Linked DNA regions of Homo sapiens: all the other regions are linked to region 2. The links come from fine-mapping of genetic effects on gene expression. A gene starts in region 2. Each other region holds a variant in brackets. All regions are shown on one strand. Distances are from middle to middle. Region 1 overlaps ASCC2 (activating signal cointegrator 1 complex subunit 2). Region 2 holds the start of ASCC2 (activating signal cointegrator 1 complex subunit 2). Region 3 overlaps MTMR3 (myotubularin related protein 3). Region 4 overlaps ASCC2 (activating signal cointegrator 1 complex subunit 2).

Evidence for each region. PIP is the estimated chance that this variant, and not a neighbour inherited with it, causes the effect.
Region 1: its variant is the best candidate, but not a certain one, in a credible set for the expression of ASCC2 in macrophages (Alasoo 2018, PIP 0.65).
Region 3: its variant is the best candidate, but not a certain one, in a credible set for the expression of ASCC2 in whole blood (INTERVAL, PIP 0.89).
Region 4: its variant is the best candidate, but not a certain one, in a credible set for the expression of ASCC2 in whole blood (TOPMed, PIP 0.53).

What each region holds. Positions count from the first base shown.
Region 1 is chr22:29,795,401-29,800,400 of GRCh38, reverse strand. The region is part of intron 15 of ASCC2 (activating signal cointegrator 1 complex subunit 2); the gene reads left to right. Among named protein-coding and RNA genes, the nearest start is that of UQCR10, 31 kb to the right of the region's middle. RefSeq lists enhancers at 711-1,211, 1,212-1,712. The variant A/G (reference allele first, on the strand shown) is at 2,792.
Region 2 is chr22:29,835,282-29,840,540 of GRCh38, reverse strand. ASCC2 (activating signal cointegrator 1 complex subunit 2) reads left to right here and starts at 2,267. Exons shown (of 20, transcript NM_032204.5): 1 at 2,267-2,363. RefSeq lists an enhancer at 1,935-1,994.
Region 3 is chr22:30,012,200-30,017,458 of GRCh38, reverse strand. It overlaps MTMR3 (myotubularin related protein 3), which reads right to left. Exons shown (of 20, transcript NM_021090.4): 13 at 4,896-5,091; 14 at 3,918-4,103; 15 at 761-931. All of the region lies in intron 4 of HORMAD2-AS1 (HORMAD2 and MTMR3 antisense RNA 1), which reads left to right. Among named protein-coding and RNA genes, the nearest start is that of MIR6818, 7.8 kb to the right of the region's middle. The variant AAAAAG/G (reference allele first, on the strand shown) is at 2,952.
Region 4 is chr22:29,801,706-29,806,705 of GRCh38, reverse strand. It overlaps ASCC2 (activating signal cointegrator 1 complex subunit 2), which reads left to right. Exons shown (of 20, transcript NM_032204.5): 11 at 153-221; 12 at 416-490; 13 at 1,876-2,068; 14 at 4,498-4,712. Among named protein-coding and RNA genes, the nearest start is that of ASCC2, 34 kb to the left of the region's middle. The variant T/C (reference allele first, on the strand shown) is at 2,296.

The DNA.
Region 1 (5,000 bases), 40 kb after region 2:
CTGCCCACGTGGAGTTTGCATTAATCAACTCATCAAACAAGCAACATCAAATTGCAGGTATAACAAATACTACAAGCTGGAGGTGCACAGAATTCTGAGCCTTTGGTAGGGCTTCACCCCAGTCAAGAAGGCTCCTCTGAGAACATGACATGGGACCGAGAGCTAAAGGGTGAGGAGGGGTCACTTCTGCAAAGGAGGGAAGGAGAAGCTTCCCAAGCAGAGCAACAGGGACAGTGGTCCCGAGGCCATAGTGAGCACAGCAAAGGGTCCCATGAACCGACAAAGCCAGCATATTTTATGTTTTGAAAAGATCAGGGCTGGGTGCAGCGGCTCATGCCTAGTCCCAGCACTTTGGGAGGCCAAGGCAGGTGGATCACTTGAGTCCAGGAGTTCGAGACCAGCCTGGGCAACATAGCGAAACCCCATATATACAAAAAATACAAAAATTAGCCGGGTGTGCTGGCACACGCCTATAGTTCCAGCTACTCTGGAGGCTGAGGCAGTAAGATCACTTAAGCCCAGGAGGTCAAGGCTGCAATGAGCTGTGATCGTGCCACTGTACTCCAGCCTGGGTGACACAGTAAGAACCTGTCTCAAGAAAAAAAAATAAGAGAGTTCACCCAGCGTTGGAATGATGACCCATCAGAGGGACAGAGAGTTGGATGTCATGGTAAAGAGTACAACATCCAAGTAGAGAACAGCAAAATAAGATGTATTCTAGTCCCCCAAAGTTCTGCATGGAATCTAGAAATCAGGGGACTTCTTTACAAGTACAGGCTGCTCTTTCACCATCACGTGAATGGGGACCGTGAGGTTCAGAGAGGGAGGAGACCAGCCAGCCTTGTTCCTGTGGTAGGAGCCCCAGTGGCGGAAATGCCAGCTGCTTCTTCAGTTAGGGCCCTGTGCTGTTACCCCTCCCTAGGGCTGTCCACTGCTAAAAGCTTGGCTGGCTGAGGGCTTGGGGAACTGGCGCAGGGCAACTACAAAGCCGTCTGGCTGGCTGGACAGGAAGCACTTGCAAACTGCTTAGTCATACACATTGCAACACCCCCAGATCCCAGGCCAAAGATGTTATCCTGGATCAGTGGCCGCTATTCCAGGCCAGCATGGCCCTCTGTAGCTCCAGCGGTGGGCAAGGGGCAGACAAGGGGTCCTCCAGGCTGGCGAGAAGCCTGGCCCCCTGCTCCAATCCAGGAAGCCTGATTGGTAAGTTCCCCACAGAGATTAGCCATCTCTGGATATGGCCTTTCACCTTGATCTGTGGTTTTGTCCAGGGCCCATGGTATTGTAAAGTCTCATCTCACCCCACCTAGGTCATAAGTCACCTACGAGCATTTGCCAAGGGGCTGGTCCCAGCTGTCAGGGTCAGCAGAGTGGCTGGCATTGAGGTGGCCAGGTTTCTGGAACACTGTGCCCTTGTTCCTGGGGCCCTCTGGGCTGGCACGCAGAGAGACTCACTGTGCTGGGTAGCCCAGGGGCTGCAGATTGCAAAGAGGCAAAGCCTCCATTCATGTGTTCATTATTTATTCATTCAGCAAATATTTATTAAGAGATTTAGTAGCACCAGATCCTATGCTAGACACCAGGGAAACAGGGTGAGCTGGATACCCGGCCTTGCCCTCAAATGATCATAAGAAAGACCATTAAACAAGTAAGGACAGAGTGGGAGGTGCTGGGGTGGGGTACACAGGAACTTCGGCAGGGACACATGTCCTAATCCCATGAGAAATTAGGTAGGACGCTGCAGATGGTAGTGGAGTTAAAATGTGTTCGTTGTTGAATCAGATAGGCTGTACTCAGTGCTTAAGTAGTAAGGAAATCTGTTCCCTTGCATGACAAGGCGGTGTAAGGTAGGGCCGTCTAGGCTTGGTTGACCTATCATCCAGAATGTATCTTTCCAGTCTCTTGGGGCCTCACTTCGTGGTCAGGCTACTTCCTTTGAGGCTGCAGAGGGGCTGCAGCTGTTTCTACTATGGCTTCCAGACATGACAGTGCCAGGAGATAGTCCAGACCAGGTCTTCCTGTGTCTCTCCTAGAGCCTAGGATACCTTTCCCAGAAGTCTCCAATACCCCTCATATCTCATCAGGAAAACCAACTCACAGGGTGCAGGCCTGGAGCTCCAGGGTGAAACGGAAAGGTAGAAAGACCTAAAGAAAATGTAGGGTCTGTTTGGAGAATGGGTGAGGTGCAGCATGGCTGTTGTGGAGACATCAATACATGTGCTACAGGTATATCATAGCCAGTGAAGGAGTCAGTGGGCAAGAGGCAGGGTCCCCTAATCCCTTTGGACCATTCCATGGTGCCCTGGAAGACAACATGTGTTCTAAAAATATCTGTGCCGGCTGGGCGTGGTGGCTGTAATCCCTGCACTTTGGGAGGCCAAGGTGGGTGGATCACCTGAGGTCAGGAGTTCAAAACCAACCTGGCCAACATGGTGAAACCCCATCTCTACTAAAAATACAAAAAACTAGCTGGGCATGGTGGCAGGCATCTGTAATCTCAGTTACTCGGGAGGCTGAGGCAGGAGAATCATTTGAACCTGGGAGGTGGAGGTTGCAGTGAGCCAGGATCACACCATTGCACGCCATCCTGGGCAACAAGAGTGAAACCCTGTCTCAAAAAATAATAATAATTAAAATTTTATTTTAAGTGTCTGTGCCCTTGGTCTGCCTTTTGGGGAGTCGCAGAGCACATTAAGGCTCTGAAAAGTCCTGTAGTAAAAGAAACAGGATTCACTTTGTTGAGCCCAGAAAGTGCTGGATCTGCTTCGACATGTCATTTCTTTCTCAC[A/G]TCAGCCCTGGGAAGTGGGTGCCAAGAGAAGGAACTGAGACTTAGCGAGGTTAAGGGACTTGCCTGTGGTCACACAGCCCAGGAAGTGGCAAAGCAGACCTGAATCAGGAGACCTGTGTCTGGCCCTGGCTTTGCTCTTAGTAGCTGTGTGACCTTAAGAGGGTTGCTCTGCCTCTCTGGATCCCCTGATTCTTCACCTGGAAAAGTAGGAGTCTGTTGCTTCCACAGGCTCTTTAGAAGTTCAAAGGCAGGAGTCACCCTGCTAAGGACCAGTTTGAATTGGGCCTTGAAGGACAGGCTTGAGGAGATGAGGAAGGGAAAGGTGGCGAGGTTTCAGGGGCACCTGCATATTCCCAGGGCTTGCTCCCATCTTGGAGGCTGAGGAAGCTACCTGCTCCAGAGGGTCTCTGCAGCCACCATTGCCTGTGTTTCCAGGCTTGACTGAAGTTCTGGCCTCTGATGCATCTTTTCCCAGCTGGCTTTGGTCCTGATTTTTCTTTTTCCTTTCTGGCTCCAAATGAGGTCTGGGGCCAAGGTTGCATCTCCCTGGACAAGCTGCCCAGGTGCCCGGGCTTCACTGTCCCTACCTGTGTCTTCTTCCAGGGCATAGCTAGGGTGGGTGGAGCTTGCCATGCTTCTCTGCCTGGCCCTGCCAGGGAGCCACATAACCAGAGGCCACACAGCATGAAAGAACTGCCCCACTGCACAGAACCAGGGATGGGATGGACCAGAAGCCGAAGGTGTAGCAGAAAGGATGGTGATGCCTCTCATTCTTCCTCAGTCTCCTGGCCCAGCACAGGTCCTGGAACCTATTAGGCCCTTAGGAAATATGTGTCAAATGCATGGGTGTGCTCCTACCAGTGGCACCTACCACCTGAACAAGCTTGGGCTCCTTTTTCTTCCTCTCTACCTCTTTTTCAGCTTAGCATAGAAAGCCAGGTACAGGGCCAAGGTCACAGTCACAGGCCCCTTCCCTGGTGGATGTGAAAGATTTCTTTGAACTGAGATTTCTCCCTGGTCTAAATCAAGTGCACCATCCCTCCTGCCATACCTTGGGGCTCCTGGTCCAATCAAGTAACCCCCTACCGTGGAGCCTCCATTACCCCTTCCTACAGATGCCCAGCCAGACCTCCTGAACCAAGTTCATTCCCTTTGTTTCCAGGGCTTCCGTTCAGCACATTTCGTGTTGACTGGTCTGTCATCTCCACTACACTGAGTTCATGAGGGCAGATCTCTATCTTCTTCATTTCTGAATCTCTCCCCAACTCAGCCTCATACCCTGCCCGGCACAGAGAAGGTCCTTAATAAAGACTACTAAAAAAAAATACAAAAAATTAGCTGGGCTTGGTGGCACACACGTGTAGTCCCAGCTACTGGGGAGGCTAAGGCAGGAGAATCGCTTGAACCCGGCTGGTGGAGGTTGCAGTGAGCTGAGATCACGCCACTGCACTCCAGCCTGGGCAACAGAGCAAGAGTCCGTCTCAAAAAAAAAAAAGATGTGAAGGGAGGCAAACCCTAGCCCGCCATGCTGAAGGCTGCAGTCCTGACCTGCCCTGGCTGCCAGGCAGATAGCCTGACAGACTGAGATGGACTCAGACGCCTGCCTCTCCCTGCACCAAAAGCCAGTTAATAGAAGATTTTTATGGAAGCTCTGTTTGGCTTTGTGTCTTTTCTTTTTTTTTTTATTATCTTACCCTTGATACATTCCAGAGACCCGATTTCACAGCTAAGCTGGATTTTCTTGCCTGGCATCTCATATTGATTTTCCCCTGCAGGGCTAGAAGCTACATTCCACAGGCCTGGGTATGTTTCTGACAAGCCAGGTTTTTTCACAGGTTTGCAAAGCCGTGAGTTGAGAAGCCTCAGTCCCTGCCGAAGCTGTGCTGCAGCTCACTTGTGACCCAAACATGTTCCTTCTCCCACCCAATGCACCCGAGTTTCCTCACCTGTAACGTGACCAGAGTTGGGCTTCCAAACATTTTCTTCCAGTGAAATTTTACATGGAAACTTGAGCTGTGGAAGAGACAGAAGGCTGCTGTAGTGAGGTGGGGGTGATAGGAAGAGGACTGGGAACCCCCTTTTCTTATACCCCAGATATCCCTATGGCTCCCTTGAGCTCAGTCAGAAAGCCACATGTGGCCTTACTGCTTCTTAAATTTTTGTTTGTTGGCAAGGAAAGGTCATTTTTGAAAAAACAATAAACGAATAA
Region 2 (5,259 bases):
TTCTCTCTTCTTAGTAGAATCTCCTATTGCCTCCTTTTGTTTGTTTGAGACAGGGTCTTGCTCTGTTGTGCAGGCTGGAGTGCAGTGGTGTGATCACAGCTAACTGCAGCCTCGAACTCCTGGGCTCAAGCAATTCTCCTGCCTCGACCTCCTAAGTAGCTGGGACTACAGGCATGCACCAGCATGCCTGGCTAATTTTAAATTTTTTTTTGTAGAGACGAAGTCTCGCTATGTTGCCTAAGATGGCCTCAGACTTCTGGGCTCAAGCAATCTTCCCACCTTAGCCCCCCGAAGTGTTGGGATTATAGGCATGAGCCACGGTGCCCGGCCCCTATTGCCTTCTTTTATTTATTTATTTATTTTTAATTTTTAGAGACTGGGTCTTGCTATGTTGCTCAGGCTCAATTTGAACTCCTAGGCGCAAACAATCCTCCTGCTTCAGCCTCCCAACCTGCTGGAACCATAAGCATGTGCCACCACTCTTGGCTTCCCTATTAACTTTTAGGCTTGCATGCTTTGATGAAGCAGGCTGCTACACTGGAGAAGCCTACGTGACAAGCCTTTAGCCAAAATCCAGCTAGGAACTGAGACCCTTAGTCCAACAACCATTAAGGAACTGAATTTAGCCACTAGACATGGGAAGCAGATCCTTTTTGAGTTGAGCCTTTAAATGAGACTCCAGCCCTGGCCGATATCTTGATTGCAGTCTTGTGGGTGACCCTGATGCAGAGGAGCCAGCTATGCCATCCTCAGATTCCTGGCCCACAGAAAATGTGAGATAATAAATATGTTTGTTGGCCAGGTGTGGTGGCTCACGCCTGTAACCCCAGCACTTTGGAAGGCTGAGGCAGGCGGATCACGACGTCAAGAGATCGAGACCATCCTGGCCAACATGGTGAAACTCCGTCTCTACTAAAAATACAAAAATTAGCTGGGCCTGGTGGCTCATGCCTGTAGTCCTGCCTACTTGGGAGGCTGAGGCAGGAGAATCGCTTGAACCCACTGTAACCTCCGGGAGGCAGAGGTTACAGTGAGCCAAGATCACACCACTGCACTCCAGCCTGGTGACAGAGTGAGACTCTGTCTCAAAATAAATAAATAAATAAATGTGTTTGTTATAAGTGGCAAGCAGTGTGTTGTTATAAGTTTGTGGTAATATGTTATGCAGCAATACAAAACTAATATAATATCCAGCCCCTCTCATCTCATTTCTGGTTTACAGCCCATCTCTCCTATTTCCTTAGCACCCTGCATTCATCACACTGACTCATTGCTATTGGTTTTCTTGCACTTCCTATCCTGTAAGCCCCTTGAAGACAGGCACTGAACTAAGCATTCCTTGTAGCCCTAGTGCAGATAGCAGGGGTTGGCAGGAGTGTCCTGGGAAATATTTCACAATCCCAGGGTGGGGTTGTGTTCTCCATTCGGGGGCTTCTATAACACCCCAATAATGATGGTGGTTGGTTTTGAATTCTTACTGTGTACCAGGCACTGAGATGAAGCCAGGAATGTGTGTTCTTAACAAGTTTTCTGTGATGATTCTGATCCATAGTCAGGCTTAGGAACCACTAAACCTACATTACCTGAGACATTCTGTAGAAAAAATTGCATCCTTCTCTTAGGATAGCTATACTTGTAACTTCCTTAAACAAAACAGAACAAAACTGTATTGCATACATACAGAAAAATGCACAAATCTTAAGCGTACAATTTGATGAATTTTCCAAAGTGAACACATCTACATGGCTACCACCGAGATGAAGACAGGGGGTGACCCCAGCCTCACTTGTGGCCCCTCCCAGCCCACAGCCCCAGAGGAAACCACCAATTTTAACACCATCACTACTCATGAGTTCTGTCTGTTCTAGAATTTCCCGTAAATGAAATCGCAGTCTGTACTTGTACATCTGCTTAACATTATGTTCGTGCTTTTGACTTGTTAAAATTTCTCTTCTGGATTAAATATGTAAAACGGTGACTAAGGAGGTCGGGCAGAAGGTGGAAGCCTGGGATTCCGAGACGTCCTCTCAGGTGCCATACTTGGATTTCCCGAGAGGTGTAATCACACAGCCCGCCCTCAGCTGACCTATTCTCTGCTTAAGCAGGAAGGGAGATAGGAGGGGAAGGGGGCGTGGCTACAGACGCCGAGTGTGGGGCGGAGTCTTAAGAAGAGAGGCGCAACCCGGGTCCGGCTTCCCGGCGGTAGTTTGCTCGGCTCTGGGGGCGGGGCCAGGCCGAGACTTCCTGTCTGCTCCTGCGGAATCGCAGTTTGACCCCGGAAGTGCGGGCGCTCAGGGAGCTGTCACCGTGGTCGGCGGCGGCGGCGGCGGCGGCGGCACAGAGCCGGTGGTGGAGCCGCCGAGGTGAGTGCGTGGCTGGTCCCTGCCAGATGCAGGGCAAGGGACCCCGGAGGAGCCGCGGCTATGCCTTGGGCAGCCTTGGCTCTCCCATCCTCTGGCCTCCATTGCGGGGCCCACGCTTACGCTACCTGAGGGGTTGTGAGCCGCCTCTCGAGACTTGGCCGCCAGGGTCAGGAGCCACGGGTTCGAAGTTCGGCCCCAGAGTGGCGTTGGACCAGCCACGATCCCCCCACGTCCTCACACCCGGGGCTTCAGTTTCCTCAGGGTTCATTCATTCGTTCAGCAAATATTTGTGGAGTGCTTCCTATGTGCCAGACACAGATCTAGACATTGGGGATACAAAGAAAGCAAGACAGACAAGGCTTCTGCCCTCATGGAGCTTACAGTCTAGTGGGAGGAGATGGTCAACGACAAGCAAATGCACAAGGTCATTAAAGCTATGACAGTAACTGGGAGAGTGGATACTATAGGCAGAGCCATCAGAAGGTCTCTGAGGAGAGTAGTATTTAATTGAGAGACTAGAGGAATGATGACAAAGAGGCTGAGGGAGCAGTAGCCCCGGGGATGCTCCCAGGCCATATTGCAATTGGGTGCTTGTAGGGAGCTCCCCCTCCCTTTCTTAGCTTTTGGCTTTTGCTGTCCTGCCTGGCAGGGGAATACAGTGGTGGGCACAGACATAGTCATGATTATTGTTTGTCCTTTTGGAGCTCAAAGTTCAGATTGTCCAGTTAATTTATTTTTTCCCCCCAAGACGGGGTCTTGCTCTGTCGCCCAGGCTGGAGTGCAGTGGCGTGATCTCGTCCCACTGCAACCTCCGCCTCCCGGGTTCAAGCGATTCTCCTGCCTCAGCCTCCTGAGTAGCTAGGATTACAGGCATGCACCACCACGCCCTGCTAATTTTTTTTTTTTTTTTCGGTAGAGACGGGGTTTCACCTTGCTAGCCAGGATGGTCTCGATCTCCTGGCCTCGTGATCCGCCCGCCTTGGCCTCCCAAAGCGCTGGGATTACAGGCGTGAGCCATCGCGCCCAGCCCTGCCTACTTAATTTGTACCCGTGCTTTAGACAAAAACTCAGGTCTTCCTTGACATCACTTCTTCCTCAAGCCAGGTCTCTCTTTTAAATGCTGCCACAGCTTCATGAGCCTTATCTACATAGCTACATCATGGTATTGGTTTTTATTTGTTTGTATGGCTAATTGGAAAAGTATCTGTCTTTCCCCATTATGACTGTAAGCTCTGTGAAGGGCAGGAGCAGGTTTGTTATTTGCCCACCTTAATATTCTCTGGGCATCAGTGCCTGCCACATAATAGGTGTTCAAAAATATTTGAATGGCCGGGCAGTGACTCATGCCTGTAATCCCAGCATTTTGGGAAGCCAAGGCGGGCGGATCACCTGAGGTCAGGAGTTCCAGACCAGCCTGGCCAGCATGGCAAAACCCTCTCTCTACTAAAAATACAAAAATTAGCCAGGCGTATGCCTGTATTCCCAGCTACTCGGGAGGCTGAGGCAGGAGAATCTCTTGAACCCGGGAGACAGAGGTGGCAGTGAGCCGAGATCGTTCCTCTGCACTCTAGCCTGGGTGACAGAGTGAGACTCCATCTCAAAAAAAAAGGAATGAATGAAATGATTAACGTACTGTTTGCTCTCTCGTGGTTTATTAAAGGTCTTTTCTGCCACCAGGTTATCATCATCTCTTTCTGGTCATGTCTGTCTCATACTTAAATGACTCCTCACTGCCTTCAGGTGAAATACTAAAATCTTTAGTGTAGCATTGAGGCTTTTTTTTTTTTTTTTTTTTTTTGAGATGGAGTCTCGCTCTGTCGCCCAGGCTGGAGTGCAATGGCGTGATCTCGGCTCACTGCAACCTTCGCCTCCCGGGTTCAAGCTATTTTGAGGCTCTTTTTAAACTGGTCCTGTCTTCCCTATCCAGCTTCTCTTCTCTCTTCACTTCTGTCATCCCCTATCTGACCTGTGTTTTCAGTAACACCAAATGTCTCCCTCTTCCTTCAAAGCCACACTTTTTAGACAGGGTCTCACTGTGTCCCCTAGGCTGGAGTTCAGTGACGTATCATGGCTCATTGCAACCTCAATCTCCTGGGCTCAAGCAATTCTCCTTCCGTGGCTTCCCAAAGTGCTGATTGCAGGCGGAAGCCACCTCACCCGACCCAAAGCCACACATTTTAAGACTCTGAGCCTTTGTTCATGCTTGCTCTCTGCTTGGAATGTCACCTTTTCCCCCATCCTTCAACATCCAGGTTATAGATCACCTTCTTTGTAATATCCTTCCTTTCTCTACTATACTGTAGTTTTGGACATTTCCTGTTACAGCTTTAATGCCAAATCATAGTCAGTTATATGCCTAGGACCCAGATTGTATTCAGGAATTGTTTGCTGAATAAACCAGGAAGCCCAAAGTGTCTTGCCTCTGGTTGGGACTTGAATAATAACAACAACTAAACTTTATTGAGTGCTTATTATGTGCCAGGTATTGGGTTGAACACTTCACATTGATTACTTCTCATAGCAACCCTACGAGTTTATGTACTATTACAATTCTGGTATTACAGAAGAGGCAATCAAAAGTTAGAGAGGTTAGGGAACTGTCTCAAGGTCTCAACATGGATAGGAAAAGGTGGAGCCAGGACTTGAATCCAGGCTGTAGGACTGTAGCGCTCTCTCCCTACCACCACACCAGGCTAGCCCTGAATTGCCCTGGCAGGCAATGGTTTGTAGGAGTGAATTTCTTTTAAAGAAAAAAAATTTTTTTTTTTTTTTTAAATTTTGGGACAGGGTCTTGCTCTGTCACCTAGGATGGAGTGCAGTGGTGCCATCATGGCTTACTGCAGCCTTGATCTCCTGGGCTCAAGTGATCCTTCCGCCTCAGCCTCCTAAGTAGCTG
Region 3 (5,259 bases), 180 kb before region 2:
GTTACTTCCCCAGAAGGCACACTGAAGGGGAGAGACAAGCAGTCAGCTTAAATCTTTTCTGTGATTACTTAAATGTAATGAGAACCATATTAATAGTCCAGGAAATCAGTATGAACTCTGATTAGCCTCCTTTTGACTTCTTTAGGGTCTAAGATGCATTCTGACAAAGCTAGTATTACTATGAAACTGACACATAGGTCTATGTGCCTCCTTTTCTCTGCTTAACAGAAGGTATTCATTCCTTCGGGGAACAAAGTCTTAAAGGGCCTGCCAGCTCTTCATGTGAGCAGAGAATCAGACAGACACACATACCAATGTCAAACACAGTTTACTGTTCTGAGACAGAAGCTTTGGTGGGTATCATTGCTTATTGACACTGGGAGGGTGCTGGGGGCCTGGTGGCAGCTCATTCTGAGCTATCAGTGCATCAGGAAGCAACTTAAGTGCCTCTCCCGTAAGACAGAATATGCTAGAAATAAGCTCTGGAGGCAGTGCCAAAAAAGATTCATGTCTAGGGTGGCAAAGTAGAGATCTGTGTTAAACCAAACCACCCTCAGCAAGTAGTCATCAGAAACAGATCAGAGCACCATCAGAAGCAGGCCTTCCTCAGGACAGAATCATGGGGGAAAAATGGAACCAGTCCATCCAGAGACAGTAGAGATGTCTTCACAAAAACAGTCACTACTCAAAAAGGCTCTCATATGTAACCAACCCCAAATTCCTTCTGCTGACCACAGTGGAAAGGCTGAAGGATACATACGGCTTCTGACTGAGAGGAATACAGTAGGTTTTTGAAAGCCTTGTTGCCTGCCCGAAGAAGTGACCACACGGAACATGTCCGTTCCTGAGTATGCTTTTCCCCTCTCTCCTTGGCGTTGTTGCACAGGAATGTTCCAAACAGGCAGGAATAGGTATGCTGCACCAGTTTCACCTATGGAAGTCCAATGAAGCACAAATTAAGCAATCAGGCATGCACACTCTGATAAGTCAGCTCAGCTGAGCCACCTTATCCTAACATCCCTGAGAACACTTCAATTTACTCTGTCAGGACGGGGAACCCAGTAAGCCATGCAGTAGCCTCCTCCTCCTCACACCACCAATTCCAGGACCCAACAACCTGAGTCAGACAGGTTGTTGGTGCCCCTATTCCTCTTAGCTTCCGTGATAAATAGTCTGAGATTGTGAATTAACAGCCACTCTCACAAGCGCCACAGCATATGAACTGGGTGCAGGAGCACGTCAGTGTACAACTCAAGTCTGAGCTGACAGTATGTTTGTAAAACTACTTGTTCATTCTACAAATTATTGAGCATTTCACATGGCCCAAACATGACTAAGGTGCTGGGCATGTAGCAATGACCAGCAAATTCTTCTGCCCTGATGGAGCTTGCTCTAGTCATAGCTGAAGAGTGACCAGTGCTATGGAGAACAAGGCAGACTGAGATGGACAGGACACATATGAGGCAGTGCAGGATGGCCTCACTGGCTGGGACCCAGTGGACTTGAAAGAGCAGGCATGTGGGTATCTGAGGGGAAGCACTCCAGGCAGAGGCAACCACAGGTGCAATGGCTTTGAGGTAAAGCACATGCTTGCAATTTCTGAGCTACAGCAAGGAGGCCAGTGTGACTAAAGGAGATTGCAGAAGAGGGAGAATGGTAGGAAATGAACCTAGAGAGGTAACCTCTAGGAAGGCCCTGGAGACCATTTTAAGAACTTTGGCTTTTGTGTAAAATGTAACTAGAGGTTTTTAAGCCAAGGAATGACACAGCCTGCCTTGTGTTTTAGAAGAGACTCTATGCTGGGATAACTCAATTGGGGCAGGAGATGATGGTGGCTTGAACCAGTGTGGTACCAGTAAAGGTGGCAATAAATAACCAGGTTTTAGATAGATTGCGAAAGCAGAGCTGCAGAATCTGACTGAATGTGGAAGAGGGAGGGAGGGAAGGAGGGAGGGAGGGAGGGAGGGAGGAGACTTGACGATGACAAAGAATTTTGCCCCAAACAAAAGGAGGGATGGAAATGCCATATGGTGAGAGAGAAGACTTCTGGAAGATCAAGTTTTATAGTGAGGAAACACAGGAATCAAGAATCAAGTTTTGGACAGGCATGGTGACTCATGCCTGTTAATACCAGCATTTTGGAAGGCCGGGGTGGGAGGATATTGTTTGAGCCCAGGTGTTTGAGACCTGCCTGGGCAACAAAGCAAGACCCCATCTCTTAAAAAAAAAAAAAAAATTAAAAACATCAGCCAGGCACAGTGGTACGCACCTGCAGTCCTAGCTACTCAGGGGGCTAAGGTGAGAAGATCACTTGACCCTGGGAGTTCAAGGCTGCAGTGGGCTGTGTTTGCGCCACTGTACTCCAGCCTGGGTGACAGAGTGAGATGCTGTCTCCAAAAAGAAGCATCAAGTTTTGAATTTATTAAGTCTGAATCAACATTAAGACAGCCAAGTGGAGATACCTAGTAGTAACTTAGATACGTGAGTCTGAAGTGGAGAGGTCTAAGCTGAAGGTGTATAAATGTGGGACTCATCAGCATACAGATGGCAATTAAAGCCACTAGAATGGATGAAATACTTGGAAGTGTGGATGGAGGAGCAGCCTGGAGGCTGAGCAAGGGGGCATTCCAACATTTAGAACTGGGGAGAGGAGGCTAGGTGTCGAAGCTTACGCCTGTAATTCTTTGGGCAACCAAGGCGGGAGAATCACTTGCCAGGAGGTTTGAGACCAGCCTGGGCAACATAGCGAGACTCCATGTCTATTTACAAAAAATTTTTAAAAACTAGCCAGGCATCTTGGCATGTGCCTGTGGTCCCAGCTACTGGGGAGGCTGAGGTGGGAGAATCTCTTGATCCCAGAAGTTTGAGGATGCAGTGAGTTATGATCACACTGCTGCACTCCAGCTTGGGTGACACAGCAAGATACTATCTGAAAAAAAAAAAAAAAAAAA[AAAAAG/G]AACTGGAGGGATTAAGGGGAATCAGCAAAGGAGGCAGAAACAATCCAGTAAGGTAAAAGGAGAACTAACAGCAAGGAAGTACTAGAAGTCAACTGCAAGGAAGTACTAGAAGGTCAATTGAAGAAAGCATTTCAAGGAAGGAGTGGTTAAACTGTGCCAAATGGTAATGATGGATCAAAGAGATGAAGACTGAGAACTTCTCACTGGATTGGTGGCATGAAGGTCACTGGTCATTTTAACAAGAGCAGCTTTGTTAAGCAGTGGGGTGAATGCCTGATTGAAGTGGGTTTAAGAGAGAGTGGAAAGAGAAATTTGAGATAGCAAGGGTAGAAAACTTGAGGAGCTCTGCTGTAAAGGGGAACAAGAGCAATAGGATGATAGCTAGAGGTAAATGCAGGACCAAGAATGGGTTTTAAAAAGATGAGAGACACTACACATTTTTAAGCTGAAACCCATGCTCTGGTAGAGAGGGAAACGCACTGATGCAGAAGGCAGAGAAGAGAAATGCTGGAGCCAGCCAGTGCAGCAGATGAGAGGAGATGAGAGCTGGTATACAAATGGACAGAGGGGCTGAAAGAGGGCAGGGATAGTGTACCCTCCATCAAAGGAGAGGGTGCAGAGTCTGAGACAGTCATGGGGGTCTGGTAGACAGACTGGAGGGAGTATGGTCCAGACATTCTGATTGCTTCTATTTCTAACTGCTATTTAGGGTTTCTACCATCCCTTTAAAAAAAAACTAAGTTTAAAACAACACAAGGACTTCATGCAAACCTGGTATACCTGGATTTTCTCTTTTTGAAAATAGCAAAATTATTTACTAAAAAAAAAAGCAGAAACAGGAAAAAAATCACCTCTATTAAATTCTGAAGAGGCAGCACAGTTTCATGTGAGAACTGGCCCACTAACATTTGTACTGACCCTCCTTCAAATTGAGAAAGTCCCCAAAATGAAGAAACTTACAAGGAATGCTTCATTGAACTCAAAAGAGCAAGGAAATTGCCTCTGAAGCTGATGAACACAGTCAAGCCACTGCAGAAACACTGGGCAACGTTCATTCAGATCATCCGAGTTCTCCCCATGACCACACCGGTCAGCAAATTTATGGCCAAAATCCAGCCACTCCATTTCCACGAGGACCTGGAAACCCTGCAGGGAAGCATCCAGGAGAGACCATTTGTGCTAGACTATCCAGACTGTGACAGTCCTAAGCCTGGTGTCACAGAAAGCAATCCCCTCTAACAGCCTCCCAGAAAGCCCACCCGGCCTTGCCCTTTGGTGGAAGGCTCTATCCCTGATGAGGCACACACTTAGGGAAATTTCCCAATTCCCTGAACTCCATTCCATGATCACTAAAATGGTACTGACTGCGTTTATCTAAGCCTTTCTTGAATGTGTATTTTTAGCCTCTTGTGTTCACTATATAAAAACCACACTTTTCCCCTAAATTTCTCTTAACATTTCTGCCTCTGGTGTTACAAAGTCAAGTCTGTAAAATCCTTCTATACCCCAAGTTTAATTAATACTTGCATATATTTTAGGGTACTTTATGATTTTTCTTTCATCTTTAACCCAACAGATGGTTATTTCAGGTAGAGCTGCTTCTCCACAGAACACTCTGGTAATATCTAGCATGCCAAGATCCTTTTACAGACTCCTTATTTTCCTGAGGTAGCTAAAAACTTTTACAAGTAGATAGACTGTAAAGGAAAATATGTCTATATTCTCAATACCTTGTTACCCATAATCTGCCCCATTTTAAGAGGTGCAAGAACTGTGGGAGGAACCACCACAATTTAGCTCATGGCATAAAGGAACAATGACCAAAACAGAAATTTCACTTTCTTTAACCGAATCACCACTCCCAAAACTGGTATCACTCCTGAGACGTTTCCCTGGCTCATCCTGAAGTACCAACCCCTCCCATTTGGATGGGCTCACCTCTATGGTTCGGTAATAAGGGTCCAGCAAGAGCTTAGCCAATGCCACAATCTGGGGGGTGCGGTCCCAGCCATCTGAGCAGTGTACTAGCACCGGCCGCTGATCCTGATCCACAGCATGCACTACCAGAAGCGCTGATTTCAGAAGCACAGACAAGTGATGGAGCCATTTTGTGCTTTCAAGAGCTGATAGCCAACTATAAAAACAGGAGAGGATTAGAAAATGCTGATTTTTTTATGATTTACTGCATCATGCTCAATGATTGTCAAATGAAAAAGCAATTTCCAAAGATTTCTCTCTCCAAATATAACACTGCCAAAACAAAAAAATCTGTGTGTTTATAAAGCATGTCTCAGGATGAGGC
Region 4 (5,000 bases), 34 kb after region 2:
GCACTGGGGTTGGCTGAACAGAGATGAGAAACCAAGAAAAATGCCTCATTCCTCCACTGGGCCCCAGCCTTAAAGAGGGGCAGCGGGTGTGTAAAGGAGCTGCAGCTCATCTTGCATTGCATGAGCTCATCTTCCCTGGTGTCTTGTTCTAGCTGTGACAACATTCAGGGCTTCATCGAAGAGTTCCTTCAGATCTTCAGCTCCTTGCTGCAGGAGAAGAGGTGAGTGTGGCTGAGCTGGCCTGGGCCCATGACCCTCCCACAGGTCCCCAAGAGGCCTTACATGATAGACCCCCGCTATAGGCCCACCACAGCTCTAATAAGGTCGGGCTGCAAACACAGGGAGTGGCCTGCAGCAGCACAGCATTCCTGTGGCCCCAGCTCTGTCCATCCCATCTGCTCTCATCTGCCTGCAGGTTCCTCCGGGACTATGATGCACTCTTCCCCGTGGCCGAAGACATCAGCTTGCTGCAGCAGGCCTCATCAGTCTTGTATCCTTCTACCATAGCCCACTACGACAGGGCCCAGCTTGACTAGGTCAGAGGTGAGACAGGCTGCTGGAACCCAGAGGAGTGGAAAGAGGTTTAGCCCCAGAACGCATGGGTCAGCCAGCTGTCCGAGGTGGCCTGCCAAGGTCCCAGCCTTGCCTTTTCTAGAGGAGATGGCTGCTCTGATGCTTGGGGCAGGGGAGATGCAGTGCTATTTTCCGTCTGTGTTTCCTGAGTATCTGGGCCTATGTGACCAAGATGGACTCAGCCCCTCCTCACAGCAGGAGGGGAGGTGGACAAGTAAACAGGCAGTTAGATAGAGTGTCACGTGGGAAGATTTCAGAGGGCAGGAAACCAGAGGTGGCGCCTCACCCAGCAGAGCTCTGGGTGGGGGTCTCAGATGGAAATGATGTCCAAGCAGAAGAACAGCAGAAAGAATGGGAGAGCACCAAGCCAGGAGCAAGGACAAGGACAAGAATGTTCGCAGTGGACAGAGGACAGAGAAAACAGGCTCCTTAGAGCCACAGACGTGTATAGAGTACAGGGGGCAGTCCTTAAGGAGGGGTCTCCCAAGAGGAGGAATTGGGGTGTTGCAGGTGAGGTGAAGGCCAGCAACGTGCACAGCCCTGGGGTGACCATCACTAAGAAGTTTGGGCTCTGTCCTGCAAGCGCTGGGGAGCGCGGAAGGTTGTGAAGCAGGAAGTGACATGGGCAGTTCTATACTTTGGAAAAGCTCTGTCTGGCCCAGGGAAGAGAATGGACTGGCCCAGGACCACCGTGAGGCTCGGGCCAGTGAGGAGGCTGTTGCTGGCATCCAAGCATGGATGATGAGGGTTTGGACAAGAAGCAGTGAGGGAGTCTAAGGGGACTCTCAGATTTCTGGCTTGACAGTGCCCAGGGTTGTTAACAAGGAGGAAGGACAGGGAGGAGCAGCCAGCTTATGGGTCATTTTTGGTGGTTGCAGTAGATTGCTCAGTCCTGCTTCAGGGAAACCTGATGGCCCACAGCCTTTGCAGAATGCCCTCAGCTGGTTGGACAGGAAGCCCAGTGGCAGTGGCCCTACCACGCCCTCCTCCTGGCAGTCAGTACAAAAGAGGAGCTGCTGGCTCGTCCATACCTGTGCCCCAGGACACTCTGATGGCAGCCCTGGCCCTGTCTTTACTCAGAGCTGCTTTCTGCTGAGTGAAAGGCACTAGGTTGTGAGGCCAGAGTGGCTGTAGTCTGGCCCATTTTTCCATGCAGCCCAGGTGCCCGTGGGCTATACCACTTAGATATAGCCCAGAAAGCCCCTGGCAGGAACCATGTGGTCAGATGCTGGGGAGGGACTGAGAAATTATGCTGCTTCAGAGCTAGGAGCTTAAGACAGACCCCTTAACAAGTCCTCACAGGGACGAGACGCGGACTGCCTACATCCTCCAGGCAGTCGAGAGTGCATGGGAAGGGGTGGACAGACGGAAAGCCACAGATGCTAAAGACCCATCGGTGATTGAGGAGCCTAATGGGGAGCCTAACGGGGTCACGGTGACAGCAGAGGCAGTCAGTCAAGCATCATCACATCCGGAGAACTCGGAGGAAGAGGAGGTATGTGTCTGAGTGGCGCTTTTCCCTCTTCGCTTGTCCCTCCTTGGCCCTATCTGAGAGGCTGGGGCAGCAGGAAACCTCCCTTCTTTGCTTTTATACTCAGGGAAAAAGTTTTTTTGGGGAATAGACAGCCTCAAGCAACTGGTCAGCTCTGTGCTGCCTTTAGAGGGTCCCAAGCTGGGGGCATGCTGGACTGTGTGTGAGGAGAGAGCAAGTTGCTTCAACTA[T/C]CGAAGCCTTAGCTTCCCCTCTATAAAATGAAGAGACGAAACTTTCCATGAACGTTTCCATGAGCCCTTCCCGGAGCTCTCCTCTAAATAGATAAAAGTGGAGCTCCTTTGGTTGCAACTGGGAACAGTGCCAAGTCCCATGGTTTGGCCTTCTTGGAAGCCCCTCCGTGGGGCTCCAGGATTCCACTGAACAAGTGTAGAAACCTCGGATCTGGTGCCTTCTCTCCAGGCTTTTCCAGGACTGGCCGAATCTGTGGCTGTCTTGATTGGCCACCAAGGCCAGGACTCTCCCCTGCATGTTGGGAGGCAGCATGATAAGAGAGATGAAGACCACACAGACTCAGGCGAGGCAGCTCAGGGGTGTGACCTGGTTCTGCCACTTGGCAGCTGTATGGCCTTAGGCACGTCACTCACGTTGAACCTTGGTTCCTCATCTATAAGGTGGGGACAGATGTAGTGCCCACCTCCATGAGGTGTTGGGATTCCCAGAGCTATCACATGGAATACCCTGAGCCTGACTGGCCTTCAGTGCTCCATTAACAAATGCCACAGTCCTTCCTCCCAGCCCAGACCCTGTGATTCCTGCAGGGCCTTGGAGAACAATGGCCTCCTTCACCTTTTCCCACCTTCTTCCCCATTTCGCTTCTTAGCAGAGTCATGGAGGTTTTATTGTTGTGATCTGTAAATTTCCTTAAATTAAAAGGCTAACACAATTAAGTCACATTGAGCAATATATAAAATGCATGCCCCTTACTTAAAAAAGAGATTGTAATTAAAGGGGAGCATCTCCACACAGTCCAGCTCTGGTGGTTGATGTTCGCCTCCACCGTCAGTAAACTTGTTGGAAAAGGACCTTGGATTAGTAGGAAGAATTGGTAGAAACCAGGGCTGTTTATGGAGGGCCTGGTCTGTGCCAAGTACTGTGCTCACTGGGTTTTGTGCCATCTTTGAACTATTTGAAACAACCCCATGAGGTGGGTGGTATAGGCCCATTTTATAAGGAGGAAACTGAGGTTCAGAGAGGGGAAGCATCCTGCCCAAAGTCACACAGCCAGTAGCCCAGCTGGTAAGTCATACAGTCCCTTCAAAATTTTAATTTAATTTAATTTAATATAATTATTTATTTGTTTTTGTTTGTTTGTTTTTTGTTTTTTTTTTGGAGATGGAGTTTTACTCTTATTGCCCAGGCTGGAGTGCAATAGTGCGATCTCTGCTTACTGCAACCTCTGCCTCCTGGGATCAAGCGATTCTCCTGTGTCAGCCTCCTGAGTAACTGGGATTGCAGACACCCACCACCACACCCAGCTAATTTTTTGTATTTTTTTTAGCAGAGATGGGGTTTCACCATGTTGGTCAGGCTGGTCTCAAACTCCTGACCTCAGATGATCCACCTGCCTCAGCCTCCCAAAGTGCTGGGATTATAGGCATGAGCACCATGCCTGGCCTAATTTATTTTATTTTATTTTTTATTTTTTGAGACAGGGTCTTGCTCTGTCACCCAGGCTGGAGTGCAGTGGCTTGATCAAGCTCACTGCAGCCTCGACCTTCTGGGATCAAGTAATCCTCCCACCTCAGCCTCCTAAGTAGCTGGGACCACAGGCGCATGCCACCACGCCTGGCTAATTTTTTTAGTAGAGACAGGGTTTCACTGTGTTGCCCAGGCTGGTCTCAAACTCCTGAGCTCAGGCAGTCCACCCGTCTCGGCCTCCCAAAGTGCTAGGATTACAGGCATGAGCCACCACACCCGGCCACCTGGCTACTTTTTTAAATTTTTTGAACAGATGGGGTCTTGCTGTGTTGCTCAGGCTGGTCTAACTCCTGAGCTCAAGTAATTCTCTTGCCTCAGCCTCCCAAAGTGCTGGGATTATAGGTATGAGCCACTGTACCCGGCCTTAAATTTTTTTTATTTTTTTTTTTTGTTTATTTTCCTGGATATGTAGTAGGTGTATATATTTATAGGTTACATGAGATATTTTGATACAGGCATGCAATAATCATAACAATCACGAGCCCCCTTTTTCACAGAGAAGGAAATGGAGGCTCAGAGAGACTTGAGTCACTTGACAAAGTTCCCACAGGCAGGAGGGGTAATCCCAGGACTTGAACCAGATCCCTGATGCCTAGTCCAGTGCTGTCTGGGGCCTGTGGCCCTATCACCGGCCCACTTAGCCTTCCCCTTCTTGGCTCTGGCTCTCACTACAGTGCATGGGAGCAGCCGCGGCTGTGGGCCCTGCCATGTGTGGGGTGGAACTGGACTCTCTCATCTCCCAAGTGAAGGACCTGCTGCCAGACCTTGGTGAGGGCTTCATCCTGGCCTGCCTGGAGTACTACCACTACGACCCAGAGCAGGTGATCAACAATATCCTGGAGGAGCGGCTGGCCCCCACCCTCAGCCAGCTGGACCGCAACCTAGACAGGTGGGAGAGACAGGTGGGAGGAGGCTCCCGCTGCCCAGGCTGCCTCGGGGTGGGGCCCCTTCCTCTCTTCCTTCCCTCATTCATGGCCCAGGACTCAGCTTGTTCTCTCTTCCCAGCCATTTAAACTAAAGCCCTCTTTGGGGAAACATAAAAACCTTAGGCCCCGCAGGAGTTTTTCACTTGCCCCAGGCAGGGCAGAGAGTGTACACATCCCTGCCACACTTTGTGGGAAGGCTGATTAGAGCGCCATGGATGTGTCTTCAGGGATGTAACACAGGGTTGTTGAGC